2 separate regions of the Homo sapiens genome follow, and region 2 is linked to region 1. Evidence: fine-mapped expression QTL. Tissue or cell type: testis. Region 1 holds a variant in brackets; the other region holds the start of a gene. All regions are shown on one strand. Distances are from middle to middle.

The links. PIP is the estimated chance that this variant, and not a neighbour inherited with it, causes the effect. A credible set is the group of variants that fine-mapping cannot tell apart.
Region 2: SCG3 starts here. The variant in region 1 is the best candidate, but not a certain one, in a credible set for the expression of SCG3 in testis (GTEx, PIP 0.62).

The regions. Positions count from the first base shown.
Region 1 is chr15:51,444,577-51,448,704 of GRCh38, reverse strand. It overlaps DMXL2 (Dmx like 2), which reads left to right. Exons shown (of 44, transcript NM_001378457.1): 44 at 1-914. Among named protein-coding and RNA genes, the nearest start is that of GLDN, 100 kb to the right of the region's middle. The variant C/T (reference allele first, on the strand shown) is at 1,648.
Region 2 is chr15:51,679,875-51,684,002 of GRCh38, reverse strand. SCG3 (secretogranin III) reads right to left here and starts at 2,500. Exons shown (of 12, transcript NM_013243.4): 1 at 2,166-2,500; 2 at 1,434-1,486; 3 at 879-924; 4 at 569-784. The coding sequence starts at 2,247.

The sequences.
Region 1 (4,128 bases):
CAAATTAGTAACTTGAAATAATGAAAAGGACGTTTATACCAAATTAAGGAAGAAAATGTTGCTGATTTGGGTTTTTCTTCCTGTTCTTACCACTGACTGAAGCATGCCTGCAGTCTCCTCCTCTGTTGAATGAAGGATAATCATAAGGTGTTTGTTAGGAGCGCTAGACCACCTGGAAAACTTTCTTAGCTGTGGAGCAGTGCGCAGTGACCAGTTCTCTGCTGTGAGAGGCCGTTTCCATTCTTTCCTGCTGAATATTTTTCCTGTTAGTGTTTATACTGAGCTAGTACTGTAACTTGCAAATGAGTGCAAATTTAAATGCAATGTTTTACTCACAATTTGCACATTCACATTTTTTGGACTGCTAGTTTTTCTATTTAAATATTTGCCTTCATGTTAGGAATGTACTATGTGAACATGACATATTTGTAGTTAACCAAACACACCTTCTTAGTCCAGTTTAGTACTTTTTCTTTTCGTGTATTCAAGGTTAAACACCCAAACATTTAAGGATATGTTGAAACTACACCAATAGAGCATTTCATATCATAATTAAAATGAATGTTAGGCTTCTTGTGGCCAGTTAATAGTTGATGAGATTGGTGACATTATTTATTGCCACAGCCTATTGTATAAACTATGCAGAGTTAAATATTTGCTTGTAAAATATTAGCCAATGTTGTCATTATTTTGATGTATTTCCTTGGTTATGACCAAAAATATGTTGAGATACTGAAACTAATGTCTGTGTGTTTAAATGTTTACCAGCAAATTGTCTTATCATGTTAATGAGAATGTTCAATGCCTGTGTGGTAAATAGTAAATACAATGGCATAAAAGTAACTTTCTCTGAAGATGTGATGTTCAGGCTGTGAAATATATATGTAAAAGAAAAATAAATGTTATTTGTTAGAGTTTTTAGTTTGATACTGTTTTTGACCATTGAGATTTTTAATTTGATAAAATGTTTAACTGTTAGAGAATTTGCAAGCTATTTGGCAGTCTATTCATTCATAAGTAAGTATTTACTGAATACCTTCTATACCAAAAGCCATTCTAGGAAATGGGATACAGTGGAGAGCCAGACAGAGAAAGCACACAATGTTGAGATTTAGCGGGGCAAGAGCTAACCTCACTATACCTTCTCCAGACAGATTTGAAGTTTATTGAATGAAGTACTAACCTCGTACCCAAAACTCAAATCTGAGTCTTGGCTATTTGCTTGCTCCTAAGTAAGTAAGGGAAGTCAGAATATGCCCACTGATAAGAAGAGCCAGGAAAATAAGCTTGTGAGTGACATCTCAATGCCTAAAGCAAAACTGATTCAAAGGAGCTTTCAGAAAAAAGGGAAGAGAACTTTCTCTGTCAGGTAAAAGCAGTAAGAGACTCTAGATTCACCTTCTAGCTTGAAACAACTAAAAGAAAGAAGACGACAAAATATATAAACAATGGTTCTCAAGACATTAAGCATCAGGTAGGGAGGGACAGTGATTCCTGAGAGGTGAGCATTTTAATTGTCCCAACTTACCACCTCAAGAAAGTTTCCAGGCCACAGGCAGGGAGAGAACCCAGGCAGAGCCTAATGGTTTCTCCAAGTTGCCAAGATGATAGAACTGCGAGTCTGGGGAATATAATGAGGATAGAGTT[C/T]GCAGGCCAAAGGCCACAGAGGGGCACAGGGAGAGGTACACAGAAGGTCTGTATTAGTCCATTCTCACACTGCTATAAGGACATACCTGAGACTAGGTAATTTATAAAGGAAAGAGATTTAATGGACTCATAGTTCCACGTGGCTGGGGAGGCCTCACAATCATGGCAGGAGGAAAAGGAGGACCAAAGGCACATCTTAACATGGCAGCAGGCAAGAAAGCGTGTGCAGGGAAACTGCCCTTCATAAAATCATCAGATCTCCTGAGACTTATTCACTATCACAAGAACAGAATGGGAAAAACCTGCCCTCATGATTCAGTTACCTCCCACTGGGTCCCTCACACAACACTTGGGGACTATGGGAGCTACAATTCAAGATGAAATTGGGTGGGGACACAGTCAAACCACATCAAGATCTTCCTCAATATTTTGCTGAGAAAGGAATCAGTGTATGTGTATGAGCAAATTGCTGGCACCCAGAACAATAGCCATCGAAAGGGATTAGAGGTAACAATCTAATCACACAAAGCTAGGAATTCAGCAGGAGGCCCCCCTTATCTGTGGCTTTGCTTTCTGTGGTTTCAGTTACCTGTGGTTAGTCATGGTCTGAAAATAGGTGAGGACAGTACAATAAGAAATTGAGAGAGGGAGAGACTATATTCACATAGGTTTTTATTACTGTATATTAATTGTTCTATTATTGTTGATCTTTTACTGTGCCTAATTTATAAGTTACACTTTTTGAGACAGAGTCTCACTGAGTCGCCCAGGCTGGAGTGCAGTGGTGCGATCTCAGCTCACTGCAACCTTTGCCTCCCGGGTTCAAATGATTCTCATACCTCAGCCTCCCAAGTAGCTGGAACCACAGGCATGTGCCACCATGCCCGGCTAATTTTTGTGTTTTTAGTAGAGATGGGGTTTCACCATGTTGGCCAGGCTGGTCTTGAACTCCTGACCTCAAGTGATCTGCCTGCCTCAGCCTCTCAAAGTGCTGGGATTACAGGTATGAGCCACCATGCCTGGCCTAAACTTTATCATATGTGTATATATAGAGAGGAAAACACATATATAGGGCTTAGTACCATCTGCAGTTTCAAGCATCCATCCACTGGAGTCTTGGAACATCTCCCTTGTAGATAAGGTGGGGGGACTACTGTAATTCATATTCTCACCAACCAGCTGGAAAACCTCATAATTCATGGGGCATTAGGTAGTACTCTCAAGGATTTTGCTGCAGTAGCAGGACAAAATTAGTCCTAGGATAAACACTATCATGGTCCTGCCTAAGAAAGCTAAAAAGGAAATGACCAAAAGCCAAATAGCTAAATTTTATCTGAAAACATAGCTCCAGAGTATTTGTAGGAATACAAAAATATCCAACACTCAACAAGGTAAAATTCACAATGTTTGACATTAAAAAAAATGCATGAAAAGTAGGTAAATACAAACCATAATGAGAGGGAAAACATACATCAAAACAGATACAGAAATAACACAGGTGATAAAATTAATAGCATAACTATTTCATATGTCCAAGAAGCTAGAGAAAAAATTCAATGTTAGGAAGAGATGTGGAAGACACACAGATTCAAATCAAACTTACAGAAATGAAAAGTATAATGTTTGAGATAAAAAAATACACTAGATGGGATTCACAGCAGATTAGACATTGCAGAGTGAAAAATTAGTGAATATGAAGGCACAATAGAAACTATCCAAAAGGAAACACTTTTAAAAAACATTGGAACCAAATAACACCAGTGAGCTCTGGGACAACTTTGAGCATCCTAATATATGTGTAATTGGAGTCCGTGAGGGAGGAGGGTAAAGGAAAAATATAATTAAAATAATGGCCAAATATTTTCCAGTTTTGATTCAACCACAGATCCAAGAGCTTTAATGAAACTCAAGCACAGGAAACAAGGAAAGTAGAGCCATACTCATCATAATCAAATTGCTTAAAATCAATGATAAGAGAAAAATGTTAGGATCACAAAGAGAAAATAGACACATTGCATACACAAGAACAAAGATAAGGATGACAGCAGATTTATTTCAGGAACAATGCAAACCAGAAGAGTGGAGTGACATCTTTAGAAGTTTTGGAAGCAAAAAAGCTGTCAATCTAGAATTCTTTGACCAGTGAAAATACCTTTCAAAAATGAAGTTTACATAAAGACATGAAAAGGGTAAAAGAATTCATCGCCAGCAAATCTGCACTATAAGAAATATCAAAGGAATATAAAGAAAGTTTCTGAATCAGAAGGCAAAATGATACCAGATGGAAATACGGATCTATTCAAAGGAATAAAGAGTACCAGCAATTATAACTACATAAGTAAATTACATAAAGACTTTTCCTCATTGTTTAAATCTCTCCTAGACAATTGTTTAAAGCATAAGTAAGGCCAGTCATGGTGGTTCATGCCTGTAATCCCAGCAATTTGGAAGGCCGAGGTGGGGCGGATCATCTGAGGTCAG
Region 2 (4,128 bases), 240 kb before region 1:
ATTTGAGGTGCTTCTGACACTGCCAAGGGAAAATGTCGAATAGGTAAACAGATAAATAGGTCTATAGCTAAGAGAAGTCTGGCCTAGTGATATGGGATGTTAGGATATAGATGTAATTGAAGCCACGTAAAGGTTAGGATGACCTAAGGAGAAAAGATATGGCTAGGAGGAAACACTGAAAAGGAAATAGTGGATATTTCACCTTTTTTGTGCAGGGTGGGAGGGTACTTTACTGATCTAATTATTTGAAAATTATGATATTTTGTGTGTACTCATTGTTAAAATAAATCTGAATGTTCAAATGAATTTAATACCATAAAATACAAATACTAGATTAAAAAATGTTTTCAGAGCATCACTAAAGGAATTTTTAAAGGGAAAATAAAATATGGCACTCTGTGGAGCTGGGGCTCTACATGTTATCAGTAAATATATGCTTTATCTCAATTTTGGACTTGACTAATAAAGGATTATGAATGTTTAAAAGATATTTTTAAAATATTGGACTTTCTCTTAACCCATTATAGGAAACTCCACGTTAACAAAAAGTTCTTTTTTTCTCATTTACCTTGAAATTTATGATCCAATCCACTCTTAGTAGAGTCATAATCATCGATCAGTTTTCGATTCTTGGTTGAATCAACATCTTCCACATTCAACTTATTATCAAGTGGGGAGCTTCTTATAGATTGTCTTTCTTTCTCAATTTTTTCCTTTTCTGTTATTGCCTTTAGCAGGTTCAAGTTATCAACAAAAGAATAGTTGCTCTGACCTGGCTTGTTTTCTGGAAGAATAGCCCCAAACCCAACACAGCCATTTTAGTTCAGATTCTCATAGCCTACATTATTTAAATTAACATCAATATGATTTCTTTTTACCTGGAGGATATGTTTTTTTAATCTTGTCTTCTTCTGCTTCAGCAATCTGTGAAGCAAACAGGAGATAGACTTGGTTTAAAATCATTGCTCCACTACTTACCAAGTACAAGAGCCAAATGATTTAATCTCCATGGGATTTAATTGTCTTGTTTGTAAAATGTGGATAATTCCTATTTCAGAGCACTGTTATAATAATTAAATGAGATAAAATTAAGGGTAGATGCTCAGTCAGTGTTAATTTCTTTCTCCTATAATATTGTTGAAAGAGAAATCTCTGGTAAATTAGGCAATCTTACAACAGAGTGGATGTGATGCTGAGCTTACTGGGTTATTATATAGTTACTCTATGTATTCATTATACAGAACTCAATGTAAATAACTGCTAGGGCATAGAATTTACCAAAACTAGATTTCCCGTCCTAATTTCTGTCAATTAACTATTAAGTTCCTGATGTTTGTAAATTCAAAATGACCAAAATGTCACAGCATAATTACATTAAATAATAATAACTAAATCAAAATGAAATAGCATTCATAATGTTACTTTTGACCTACCTGTTCATTCAAAGGTCTTTCTGCACTTAATTCTCTATTATGTAGAGATTTGTCTAGAATAAACACATGTGAATATAAATTTAATTGTGCGTTGAAGGACAAAATATGCCTCTTATTAAATAAAATTTTTATAAAAAGGAAAAATATTAGGAGAAATAATTTTGGATGACTATGAAACAAATGCATATTAACAAAGATTATCAAGATTATACAATAATAGTAATTATCAATATTGCCTTGTTTATTATCTTGGTGTATTTCTTGAGCTGACAGAATCACACTTTTTTTTTTTTCTGACCAGAAATTTAACATATAGTTCTAACACTAGGGTTATCAGCTATTCTCAGCTAGAGAGAGCATAATTTGGATTGGTATTATTGGCACACTAAAAGCTCTTTCATCATATACTGCATATATAATGAATAGACTGTCTGAGAAAGGTTGTAAGGCAACTAGAAAACAATCCAAGCCACTTTAGGTGAAAAAGGTTCCCTTCCCTTTTCAAAATAAGATCTTTAAAAACAACCCATATTATTGCTCTATCATTTTAAAAGTGAAGAAAAAAAATCTGTCTTCTGTCTCTAAATTCGAACTGATTTCTCTGTCCGTATTCATGGATATGATTTGATCAGAAAACGCGTCAGGGTGATTTACAGCTCACGTATTATGCCAAACTTTACCTTTTCGTGGCGAAATAAAAGGAAGGTAGGAAGAAGAAAAGTGTTCACATACCTTGGCTTCCTCCAGGTTTGGGGAAAGCTTGAATCGGGAGCACTAACACCAGAATCCAAGTGCCGGTCCCGAGGAACCCCATTCTTCCACGCTCGGCTTGGGTCACAGCCCGGCGCTGGGCTCCTGGAGCTGTAGCTTTTGTTATGAATGAAAAGGAGGAGTAAAAACAGGAAGAGCCAGGAGGGTGGGTGTGGGGCGGGAGAGGGGCCGGGACTGGGCGGCTGCAGGATCTCTGACACTCGACGGTCAAGGGATAAGCAGGGTTGGGGCGCGCGGGAGTCAAGTCTCCAGGTAGAGGGGAGCGCTGTCCGCCCTGTGGGTGCTGAAGTTCCTGTGACGCGGAGACTGCGCGCCAGGGCGTAGCTTTACTCTCGCTCCCTCCTGCAGAGGAAGTGAGGAAGGAAGCGCATGCTCCATGCACGCCAGAGGCGGGAGGGGATGGCGTCGGTGACTCCAACGCTACTCCAATCCCCCGGGAATGGAACAAAGGAGGGGCGACCGGCCAGCTGGTGTATTTTCTGTGCTGCAGTCCTAGGGTGCTCCTGGGCTCAGGGTCAGCTGGCTTGTCCTAAGCGTGACAGAATTGTCCCAACCTCTCAAGTAAATGTTACTTCAAGGGCCAAATGCCTTCTCTGCCTGTGCACCTGTCAAGGAGATTTAGATAACCTTGTGCGAGGAGTTCTGCTTCGGGATTCTTCTTTTGGGATATCTGCTCCAGAATCCCTTCCTTCCATTCACCTCCTGTACCCAAAAGGTAGATATAATTATAATCTCTTTAGAAAAGCCCTGCCTTTTGTGGTCTGTGTTGACGTATCAAGCATCCCTCAGCTCTACCGAGGCTTTTGAATTGGGAAATTCAAGGAACAGTCTTCCAAATAGTCAGATTGCTGCAATACACTCTCACTCTCTGATGCTGAAACACAACAACAACAGAAACAGTCCTGAGTAGACGAGCAGCAATGGCAAATTCTCCTTTCCCCACCAAGTGGAACCTCCCCCACTTTACACACACACACCACACAACTAAATTAGAAAAAAGAAGCTGCATTTCTGTAAAATCTTGCCCAGAATTTAATTATGCCCAAAGACCTGGCTGTTCCAGGGGGTCCTTCAAGAGAGGGGATAGTCATGAAAAGCATTTTTCATCTTTACTAAGTCAGGGAGGTGCTTCCTATGTTCTGAGAATATTCCCAGAAGCCTAAGGTTATTGTATACAAGGAACTATCAAAAGACTTTAAATGATGAAAACAAGCAACATTAATGTGAGCAGGATGCTGAGTAAGCTCTTTAGTCTCTGATTTTTAAACAGAACTTGGACCTTTTCCTCTGGACTGCGGCATGCTGGGAACCAGTCTGAATAATGACCAAAGAGAAGGATTCAGCACAATCAGGCCTTTGATTTCTGCACCCTCCTTTTCAAGGAGGAAGTTATTCAAGTACCTAAAAACAAACAAACAACCAAGCTGACAAACAAATCTCCCTTGCTCCGGAGGTTTTTGAGTTTGGAAGTCACTCAAATACTTCCTTTGAGGATCTAAAGAGTATTCTAAATCTAACAGCTCCTTCAAAACAAAAAACTCTTTATTGGCAGTAATAACATAGCATTATTATCCCAGTATACTGCATTAAAAAATTAAGTCATATTTTAAAATCCCAGCTGAATGAAGGGTATATTTCCTTAGTTTCCTTTTCTTTATGATGGAAATGACAGGCTCTGTTTACCTCACACTGTTATTATGAAGATCAAATGGGTACATGTTTTGAACTAGTCATTTTGATACCAAGAATATTTTGATACAGCCTAAGAAAATAAGTCATGAAACGTTTTCAGCTTTTATGAAACATTACCCAACGCTATCTGAAATAGCCATTCACTGATCCTGAGACTCACTGACCTAATCCCTCAGCTTCACTTTGTCCTTTGTCCCATTCCTGACTCATTTATCTCCTCAATACATGTTTG